Homo sapiens: one gene and its partners. The protein of the gene in region 1 interacts with the protein of each later gene in a pairwise test. Each region holds a gene or a part of one and is shown in the gene's direction. Other genes may lie near its edges.

Region 1 (3,653 bases):
CGAGAAGAATAAGTTCCTGGACCTCAGAAATCTCATCTGGGGCACTGGTGGCCCTTAGGCTTAGCTTGAGGGGAGGCTGGTATGGTCCCTTCTTAAAAGAGAGTGACTGTGGTGAAATGAGTTAGACAGATCGGTGTTACCCAGGGCAAATCATTCTACCACCCTGAGGCGTATCTATAAGATGGAGTTAAGGAGTCACTGGTGTGAAGATTAAACTATGAATGACACCTGGCATATGGTTGACATTGAGGAAACCCACGTTTCTTTTTATTTTCTATTTCCCTGAGAAAGAACTAACAAACTGTTGGTGCCTGTAGTGCAAGCCATGGTTATATTTTGCCCTAGGATAATGTCACTGGTCACCATCTTTATGTCTTCTACATTTGCTATCAATTCAACTGTTGTTATTTCCCCAAGTGAATTTGATAGAAAGCTCAAGCAATAATCTGCAAGTTTTCTCGGGACCTGACAGCTGGACTTCCTTATCCTCCACACCCCATGCCAGCATCCTGTCTGTACCCCACACCAACGGACCAATCAATCCAGGGCCCAGGTAAGACCAACACCATCAACTCGCTCATTGGTCGTCTTGGGGGTTTACTTTAGCACTGGGGACTCAAGTTCATTCTTTTTCCTAGGGTGGCTTGGTCTAACCTATTGTCTTGACTTCTAAAACACTAAGAAGTCAAGGTGGCAACAGGGTGGAGTTCTTTCATAAGGGGAGAAACAGCTCAGTCATATACTGTTTCTTTTATTTAGAAGGATAGGCCGGGTGCAGTGGCTCACACCTGTAATCCCAGCACTTTGGGAGGCCAAGGCAGGTGGATCACCTGAGGTCAGCAGTTCCAGACCAGCCTGGCCAACATAGTGTAACCCCATGTCTACTAAAAATACAAAAATTAGCTGGGCATGGTGGCGCATGCCTGTAATCCTAGCTACTCAGGAGGCTGAGGCAGGAGAATCGCTTGAACCCAGGAGGCAGAGGTTGCAGTGAGCTGAGATTGCGCCATTGCACTCCAGCTTGGGCAACAAGAGTGAAACTCCGTCTCAAAAAATAAACAAATAAATAAATAAAAGGATAAAGACATTATGGCCTGGGATCATTTGTCTTAAACCAGTCAGAAATACTTTAAACTATGGTGGTAGCAAATAGATACTGACTGTAGAGGAATTGAAGAGGAAAAGTATAAATATACACTGAGAAGTCAAGACCCATGATTGTCCATTTTCCCATGAGTCACCCATCCTAAAAGGGGGACATATTGTGGATGCCTGGCCTCACGACCCTGGTAACAGAGTTAAGTGTAGCATGGGGGACCCCATGGTTTAATCCTCACACTAGCAACCTGCATTAAGTTCTGACTTCTAGAAATCTGAGTGGTGAAGTGGGAAGAGAAGGCCCCTTTGAGTCTGACAGGCAGGGGTTTGAGTCCCAGTTCTACCTCTTAGTAGTGATTTTGTGGCTTTGGGCAATTTTCTTAGCCTTACTGAGCTTCAGCTTTCTTATCGGTATCATGGAAATAATATGACCTACTTTGCAGAGTTACTGTGAGCATCAAATGCAGAAATGAGAAAATGCATTAACGTGCTTTGTAAGCAGTAACATTCTGTGTAAATGTCAGCTATTATGTTCAATATGGTTATGCAGAATTTTGAGAAGGTCCAAAGTGGATTCAAAATTAAAAGATGAGGCTTGGCGGGGTGCGGTGGCTAACACTTGTAATCTCAGCACTTTGGGAGGCCGAGGCAGGTAGATCCCCTCAAGTCAGGAGTTTGAAACCAGCCTGGCCAACATGGTGAAACCCCATCTCTACTAAAAATACAAAAATTAGCCAGGCGTGGTGGTGCATGCCTGTAATCCCAGCTACTTGGGAAGCTGAGGCAGGAGTATCACTTGAACTCAGGAGGCGGAGGTTGCAGTGAGCTGAGGCACTGCACTCCAGCCTGGGCAACAAGAGCGAAACTCTGCCTCCAAAAAAAAAAAAAGGATGGGATTTGGGAAGACATCAGATGACTTGTGATTTGTAAGTCCAGAAAAAGTTAGGAAAGGTTAGGAGAATGTAGTGGCTTAGAATCACCTGGGGTTGTTGTTAAAATGCAGAATCTGATTGGTAGGTTTGGGTGGGGGCCTGAGATTCTGCATTTCTACCAAGTTCCTGGGTGTTGCTGATATTGCTGTGGCCCACAAGGGTGTAGAGCTGTGCTGTCCAGTGCAGCAGCCACCAGCCACCTGTAGTTGTCAAACACTTGAAATGCAGCTAGTCCAAGTTGAGTGTAATACTCACATAGGATTTTGAAGATTTAGTGTGAAACAAAGAATAAAAATCCCAGTTTTTTATATATATATATAAAAAAATATAAAATATATATACCACTATATTACATATATTTTTATATTTTTAAATATAATATAGACTTATATATAAAATAGATAATATATATTTTAATATATATAATTTGTATAAAAATATATATTTTAATATCTATAAAATATATATTAAAAATATATAAATATATAAAAATATAACAGTATATGTAAATATAGATGTTATTATGTAAATATTATGATGTAAATATATACATATAAATATATATATTTACATCAAATGCATGTTGAAATAATATTTTGAATATTTTTGTTAAATAAAATATTAATAAATTAATTTTTTTCTAAATGTGGCTACTAGAAAATTTAAACTTACACATGTAGTTGGCATTTATGGTTTGCATTTTGACGCTGATCTAGAGGATCATTTGCATTTGACACTGATCTAGAGGATCTGAGGGAAAAACATTGATTTGGGCTGTGGTAGGAAGTGAGAAAGAGAGTGAAGATGAGGTTCCCTGAAGATATTAAACAATCATGTGCCAAGTTGTATACTAGATACTTACATATATATAAGTCATCCATATATAAGTCATCTGTAGTACTCAAAGACAACTATAAGGCAGGTATTAAAATTCCTATTTTGCTGATGAAGAAACTGAAGCTCAGAGGCCTTAAAAACTTCCTGAAGGTTCTGCAGTAAGCAGTACCTCTCAGAGCCCATGGTTCTCCCACTGGCCCAGGAGGCATCAGAAAGGGTCTGTAAGAGATAATGTAGAAGAGCATCTTCTGAAGATTGGGGCCAGAATCCCCATAAGCTGAGCTAGCTCAGAGAGAGCTCAGAGGATGGGCTGCTGAAGGTTTCATATGGTCCAAAGAGGCCTGTAGCATTGAAAAATGGCACCAGGTGAAGGATGGCATTGCCAACTCTGGCTTCCCTGTTGGTGTGTTTAACTCATTCCTGACTCCATAAATATTTTGTTAGAAACAAAACAAAACAAATGTATTCAATATTGCCATTGGATAATAAGCATATTATCAAGCAATACAGTGTTGGGCAATGCAGAAACTCTAAAATGTAAGAAACATAGTGATGACTACAGGCCGAAAACATTGGGTTCATTGCACCTGTTCCAACTGCATCTATATTAAGGTGCAAGCTTGGCTGTACATTACAGTCACCTGGGAAACTTAAAAAAATCCTCGTACTCAGGCTGCATGCCAGATCAGTTCAATCAGAATCTCTGGGGCAGGGGAGTGGGGTGAGAGTGGGATCCAGGCACCAATATTACTTTAAAAACCCCCCCTAGTGATTCCAATGTGCCGA
Region 2 (3,653 bases), on another chromosome or scaffold:
AGTGCCACTGCACTCCAGCCAGGGCGACAGAGTGAGACTTTGTCTCAAAAAAAAAAAAATTATTTCATTCTTAAATAGCAACAGTTACTTACTAAAGACCTCTATGTGTCTGTTGGGCACTGCATAGCTTCTCAAACCTTGGAATCACGATTGCACACTGCTACTCTCATTTCCCATTTCATATTGATTTTTGTGTAGTGCTTGCTTTTTTATAACAGCAACTGCCAGAAACAGCTTCTCAGAGATATGAAGATATTGAACGAATTTTATCATGGTCTGATATTGACATTGCAACTGTCTTAAGCTTGTAATTCATGTAGTAAGTATCCTTGTGTTGAGTGTTACTGTGTTTTTCTCAAAAGTTTGAGGTATCCCATGGCACCCTTGTGAGTTTGTAGTAGTGCCCAGAGTGTACTATTTGAGAACTGTGGCCACAGGCTAATTGGTTTTTTGTTTGTTTGTTTGTTTTCATTTGTTTGTTATGAGATGGAGTTTCACTCTTGTCACCCAGGCTAGAGCACAATGGCATGATCTCGTCTTACTGCAACCTCCACCTCCTGGGTTCAAGCGATTCTCCTGCCTCAGTCTCCCGAGTAGCTGGGATTACAGGCATGTGCCACCAAGCCCAGTTAATTTTTTTGTATTTTTAGTATAGACGGGGTTTCTCCATGTTGATCAGGCTGGTCTTGAACTCCTGACCTCAGGCGATCCGCCTGCCTCGGCCTCCCAAAGTGCTGGGATTACAGGCGTGAGCCACCACACCCATCCTGCTAATTATTTTTAGTGTATCAGTCAATGTATTGAAAACGACTGTGCCAGATTCTGAGTTTGCAAGGTGGAAAAAAGTCGTCCCCCTGCTCTTGTGCAGCTTACAGTCTAGTGGGGGCATAGATGTTAAATATAAAATTATTTGTATCAAATTGTAAATTGTGATAAATGCAATGGAGGAAAAAGGGTGCTACGAAAGAATAACAGGGTACCTACTTTTGATTAGGAGTGATATTAAGCTGGGATCTGAAGGATGGGCAAGAGCCTGCTGGGCAAAGATTTTTTTAAAAGGGTATTACTTGGGGGGAACAAACTATACAAACACCTTGAACTTGGAAGAAGCTTGACACGTTTATTGAAAGAAACCTAGTGTGATTGGACTAAATCAAGAGGGAATAGTGCAAGATGAGGTTGGAAAAGTAGGTAGGGACCAGATTTTATAGCACCTTAGAGGCCTGAGTAAGGGTTTTGGATTTTATTCTAAATACATGGAAATTGAAGCTTGGGAGATGGGGGATTAAAAATAATAATAAATAAATACACCTGAAGCATTTTAAAGTTTTAAGTAGAGAAGTGGCTTGATCAGATTTTAAAAGATCACTCTGGAGGAGAACAAGGACTGAAGTAGTATCCCAGTTGCAATAGTCCACATGAGAAAGAATGGTAGCTTGGTCTAGGAAGTGACCCTGGAAAGAGAAAGAAAGGATAATTTTAAGGTACATATTGGAAGTACTTCACTTTGGAATGGATTAGATATTTGGAGTAGGGAGCAAAGGGTATCAATAATAACACTTTGGTTTTTGGCTTATGCCATTTACTGAGATACAGAAGCCTGCAGCAAACACAGGCTAGGGGAAAAGAAGTTCCATTTTGATGTGTTAAGTTTGAAGTCCGTTTTATGTATCAGTGTGGAAATGAAGAATTCACAAATGTACAAATCTGGTGCTTAGTCAAGCATCTGGGCTAGAGGTACAAATTTGGGAGGGTTGACATTTAGATCTTCCCTGGTCTTCACACAGCTGATGGTATAATAAATTAAAATATTGTAGATTTGTTGTTCTTTAATGGTCTTACACTTTTTTTCCAAGGAGTTGGAAAACTGGAAACCTCCCAAATGAAAATTTTCAAATTGAAAAATACGAATCACAAACAGCCCAACCTTGCCTTATTCTTCAGTTTGTTTTTTTGGTTTTGTTTTTTTTTTGCGACAAGGTCTCGTGCTGTTGCCCAGGCTGGAGTACAGTAACGTGCTCAGCTCACGGCAACCTGTTTCCAGGGCTCAAGAGATCCTCTCACCTCAGCCTCTCACGTAGCTGGGACTACAGGCATGTGTCACCACGCTCTGCTGATTTTTAAATTTTTGTAGAGACAGGGTCTCACTGTATTGTGCAGGCTGTTCTTAAACTCCTGGGCTCAAGTAATCCTCCTGCCTCAGCCTCCCACAGTGCTGGGATTATAGGCATGAGCCACCACGCCCAGCTCTGCAGCCTTTTATCCTGTTTTTCATAAGGTCTTTTGTTGCCATTTTTATTCCCTTTTTCAGTCCTTAGCTCTTATCTTTTTTTTCACCTAATTTTATCCATATCACTGTCTCTGAATTCCCTGGTGGCAAGCTGCTTTTATATGCACTAGTAACGAAACCAGTGAGACTTAAGACAACTGTGTTTTCCTTATTCCTGGCTCATTCTCTTCTTGTGGCTTGATTCCAGTAAAAAAGGAAGATGCTCATCACTGCTGGATGGGACATCTTATGACTTTTCTGCTTTCTAGTAACTAGAGTTTTCCTTTTTTTCTTCCCCGCCCAAGAGACAGTCTTGCTCTGTCGCTGAGGCTGGAGTGCAATGGCGCGATCTCAGTTTACTGCAACTTCCGCCTCCCATGTTCAAGCAATTCTCTTGCCTCAGCCTCCCGAGTAGCTGGGATTACAGGCACCTGCCACCATACTCAGCTAATTTTTGTATTTTTAGTAGAGACGGGATTTCACCATCTTGGCCAGGCTGGTCTTGAACTCCTGAACTCGTGATCCACCTGCCTCGGCATCCCAAAGAGCTGGGATTACAGGCATGAGCCACTGTGCCCAGCCAAGTTTTTTTTTTTCCTCATCTATACTTTGCTCTCCTTGATCTCATTGGAAAAACAAGCAATAGAGCATAAGCTTTGTGTAACTATGGGGGCTTGCCTAACCCTTGATAAGCCATTTTCTCTGTAATAGAGTGAGGTATTATCTTCAACTATGCAGCAGCTGTCCCAAAACTAAAGAATATTTTCCAAGATGCTACAAAAATCAGTAACTCTGTATAAGAGTATCATGTAGGATCTACATTCTTTATGAAATAACTGGCAGTTGAAACCACGACGGAATTCTTTTAGAAATAGACTTTCCTCTTTCACTTGGATCTTTTTTTTAAATTTTCTCCTTAATTAATCTCTTGCAGTGACCTAGAGTCCCGCAGGGATGTGAAGAGAGAAGAAGGAGAGGCCTTTGCTAGGGAGCATGGACTTATATTCATGGAAACTTCAGCCAAAACAGCCTGCAATGTTGAAGAGGTACTATTTGGAAAACAGTGGGGAAAGCTCTTTAGAGATTACACCATTATTTGTCCTTGTATTCAGAATTCTCTTCTCCTATAAGAAATTGGTAAAGAAAGGATGTCTTGGCCGAGCGCGGTGGCTCATGCCTGTAATCCTAGCGTTTTGGGAGGCCAAGGCAGGCAGATTGCGTGAGCTCAGGAGTTTGTGACCAGCCTGGGCAATATGGTGAAACCCCATCTCTACTAAAATACAAAAAACTAGCTGGTCATGGCGGCGTGTGTCTGTAGTCCCAGTTACTCGGGAGGCTGAGACAGGAGAATTGCTTGAACCCAGGAGGCGGAGGTTGTAGTGAA
Region 3 (3,653 bases), on another chromosome or scaffold:
TACTTTGGAGAGTGGTTTGGCAACATTTAGTTGATTTGAAGTTGCTGATATACTAACCCAGGCTCTGGGTGTTATATTCTAGAGGAATTTTTGGCACGTGGACTCAAGGAGACATGTACAGAATGTTCATTGCAGTATTGTTTTTAATTGTAAAAACCCGCAATCAATGTCTATTAGAAGAATGGATAAATTGTAGCATATTTGCAGTACATGTTGTTAAAATGAATTAATGTTAAGTATTTATTAACTTAGATACATCTCCAGGAAGTGATCATATTGCAGTGCAAAGGGAATTGGCTAGGATCACAAAGTTAGGTACTAGTCAAATTAGAATATTTTGCATTTTTCAACTTTAAATGAGTTGTACTATTTTTTGTATTAATATTTCTACATTTGGCATAGTTAAAACCAGAATTCACACAGAAGGCTCAAACAGCCAAAAACAGATGTTAGGGAGTATATGGTTCACACATGAAGATCTCCTTTTTTTGGAACTGGTTTATACCAAAATTAAATTACCACTTTAAAGTTATCAGAAGATATTTTAGGAAATGTACAAAGGCCTAATTACTCCGAAACAGATGACAAACCTTGTAGGAAGTTGCACAGTTTTTGACAGTTTTTTGTTTGAAGGAAAAAGATTTGATATTATGGTTTGGCACTACTCAGGGGTTTGCAGGGTTTGATGTCCACTGCGTGGCTAATTGCATCTGTTACTAATTCATAATAGGTTCACAACATCTGGAAAGATGGCTACAAAAGACGGTATAAGGCTGGGCATGGTGGCGCACGCCTGTAATCCCGGCACGTTGGGAGGCCGAGGTGGGTGGATCACTGGAGGTCAATAGTTTGAAACCAGCTTGGCCAACATGGCGAGACCCTTTGTCTACTAAAAATACAAAAATTAGCGGGGTGTGGTGGCATGTGCCTGTAATCCCAGCCACTCGGGAGGCTGAGGCAGGAGAATCGTTTGAACCCGGAAAGCGGAGGTTGCAGTGAGCCGAGATCGCGTCACAGCACTCCAGCCTGGGCGACAGAGTGAGACCCTATCTGGAAAAGAAAAAAAAGCTTCATTAAGGTTTATATCCTGAGGACCCGTCTAGCTTTCCTCTTCAGGTTAATTTTTAATCTGAATTCTAACAGATCCATATAGATTAAGCAGAAAATAATTACCTAAAGCAGCTGCTATGGGTAAGCACAGAAGGGCAAAGAAAATGACAGGCAACAGCATTAGAGTAAAACTGGCACAGTGCAATCATTTAAACACTGCTAGCAGTTCCAGGAGAGCACGCAGGTAGGTCACCTCAAAGTTCTGACCCTCAATACTATCAATTAATTAAATAATTTTTTTTTTTTTTTAAAGACGGAGGGTCGCTCTTGTTGCCGTGGCTGGAGTGCAATGGTGCGATCTCGGCTCACTGCAACCTTTGCCTCGTGGGTTCAAGTGATTCTCCTGCCTCAGCCTCCCGAGTAGCTGGGATTGCAGGCGTCCACCACCACGCCCAGCTAATTTTTGTATTTTAGTAGAGAGAGGGTTTCACCGTGTTGGCCACGCTGGTCGGGAACTCCTGACCTCAGGTGATTTGCCCGCCTCAGCCTCCCAAAGTGTTGGGATTACAGGCGTGAGCCACCGCGCCCGGCCCACTATCGCTTAATTTAAAGAGCTGTAATGCATGTTTGTAATGCAGACTCAAGGAAAATTATAATTTCCTTAAATGTGTATAGAGGATGTGTGAGAGTGGAAAGATGTCTATTCCAAGGTGGATAAAAAATAAAATGGTGGACTACCTCAACATGGAGGTGCCAGCTGTCCAATTACAGCTGTCACTCTGTTTCTGGGAATTTCTCCCGATTCTTAGCCGGAGCTGCGGCCCGCAACTCCCTCAGCCTGGCAGGTCCCAGGATGCTTCGGGGCAACCCCACGCATGCGCGCTCTGGCGTAGTTCCCTGAAGCACTCGCTCGCAGAGAATCCTGGAATCTTCGCTTGTGGAGCTGTGGAGGCAACGGAGTTTTTCCGCGCTTTTTCTTTCAGCCTCAGATTAAGTATCATTTGTTACTATTATTTTCTCTACTGAGCGTGGAAAGCTGGCTGAAAATTCCAGAGTGTAATTTCTGTGGGTCTGTTTCTCTAAAACTTGCCCCTCACGCAGCTTGTACAGAAGTTAGATTGGCGCTTACTCCCAGCTGGTGGAAGATTCGGAATTAGCTGCGCCTCTGCTGCGTGAGAGAGGGCTCAGCTTTAAAGCTTCCCAGCTCCTCTGCTTTCCCGCTGCCCCCTACTCTGCCGGATGTAAAATAGGCCTCTTAATCTTAACTGTGGCTGCCAGGTGACATACCTGAGGAAACTCACTCAGCGGGGCTATTGGGATAAAGGTGTGCGAGTGTTCTTTTCTATCGACCTGGAGGGCCAAGGCAACTTTTTTTTTTTTCCTTCTGGGACGGAGTCCGTCGCCGGCTGGAGTGCAATGGCGCGATCCCGGCTCACTGCAAGCTCCGCCTCCCGGGTTCAAACGAGTCTCCTGCCTCAGCCTCCTGAGTAGCTGGGACTACAGGCGCCCGCCACCACACCCAGCTAATTTTTTGTATTTTTAGTAGAGATGGGATTTCACCATGTTAGGCTGGTCTCGAACTCCTGACCTCGTGATCCGCCCGCCTTGGCCTCCTAAGGTGCTGGAATTATACAGGGGTGAGCCACCGCGCCCAGCCTATATATATACATGTTATGAGAGAGATTCTTGCTCTGTCCCCCAGGCTGGAGTGCAGTGATGCGATCTCACTTCACTGCAACCTCTGCCTCCCGGATTCAAGTGATTCTCCTGCCTCAGCCTCCCGAGTAGCTGGGATTAGAGGCTTGAATCACCACGCCTGGCTAATTTTTGTATTTTTAATAGAGACTGGGTTTCACCATGTTGGCCAGGCTGGTCTGGAACTCCTGACCTGAAGGGACCCCGCCTGCCTTGGCTTCCCAAAGTGCTGGGATTGTACGCTTGAGCCACTGAGCCTGGCCCACGTATATATTATTTTTGACGTTAGCAAGATCTGTAACCACCTTTGTCTTTACCTTTGTCCTTAAAGCGTTTTTAGAAAACCGGACAAACGAGCACAATTAATATTATTGAGTAACTGAAATCAATATATCAATTATAATAAATACAAGGAATATAATAAAATGTGCAGTATTTTATGATAAAAACGTGCATGTTATATTTCTTTTTTACTTTTATTTTCATTGCAATTTAACTTACTTGGCCTTTTTATTTACCCCTTCTTAGGCCTCTCTTCAGCTTCTGGAGACCTCACTATCCTATTATGTCTTTGTGTGAAGACATGCTGCTTTGTAATTATCGAAAGTGTCGCATCAAACTCTCTGGCTATGCATGGGTCACTGCCTGCTCTCACATCTTCTGTGATCAGCATGGCAGTGGTGAGTTTAGTCGCTCACCAGCTATCTGTCCTGCCTGCAACAGTACCCTTTCTGGAAAGCTAGATATTGTCCGCACAGAACTCAGTCCATCAGAGGAATATAAAGCTATGGTATTGGCAGGACTGCGACCAGAGATCGTGTTGGACATTAGCTCCCGAGCGCTGGCCTTCTGGACATATCAGGTTAGTGCTTAGTCTAGTTTCTCTTGAGCATGTGATTTATGGCATT

Evidence for each region.
Region 2: the proteins of TBX19 (region 1) and RAB2B interact in binary tests that used the Homo sapiens proteins (3 or more experiments, as listed by UniProt).
Region 3: the proteins of TBX19 (region 1) and CCNB1IP1 interact in a two-hybrid assay, tested with the Homo sapiens proteins (one large-scale study listed by BioGRID).

What each region holds. Positions count from the first base shown.
Region 1 is NC_000001.11:168,308,325-168,311,977, forward strand, and holds part of TBX19 (T-box transcription factor TBX19), read left to right. Parts: intron 1-417; coding exon 418-553; intron 554-3,653. UniProt on the Homo sapiens protein: Transcriptional regulator involved in developmental processes. Can activate POMC gene expression and repress the alpha glycoprotein subunit and thyroid-stimulating hormone beta promoters.
Region 2 is NC_000014.9:21,463,318-21,466,970, reverse strand, and holds part of RAB2B (ras-related protein Rab-2B), read left to right. Parts: intron 1-1,100; exon of another isoform or gene 1,101-1,454; intron 1,455-3,203; coding exon 3,204-3,315; intron 3,316-3,653. UniProt on the Homo sapiens protein: The small GTPases Rab are key regulators of intracellular membrane trafficking, from the formation of transport vesicles to their fusion with membranes. Rabs cycle between active GTP-bound and inactive GDP-bound states.
Region 3 is NC_000014.9:20,316,181-20,319,833, reverse strand, and holds part of CCNB1IP1 (E3 ubiquitin-protein ligase CCNB1IP1), read left to right. Parts: intron 1-1,859; exon of another isoform or gene 1,860-2,040; intron 2,041-3,273; 5' UTR 3,274-3,310; coding exon 3,311-3,607; intron 3,608-3,653. UniProt on the Homo sapiens protein: Ubiquitin E3 ligase that acts as a limiting factor for crossing-over during meiosis: required during zygonema to limit the colocalization of RNF212 with MutS-gamma-associated recombination sites and thereby establish early differentiation of crossover and non-crossover sites.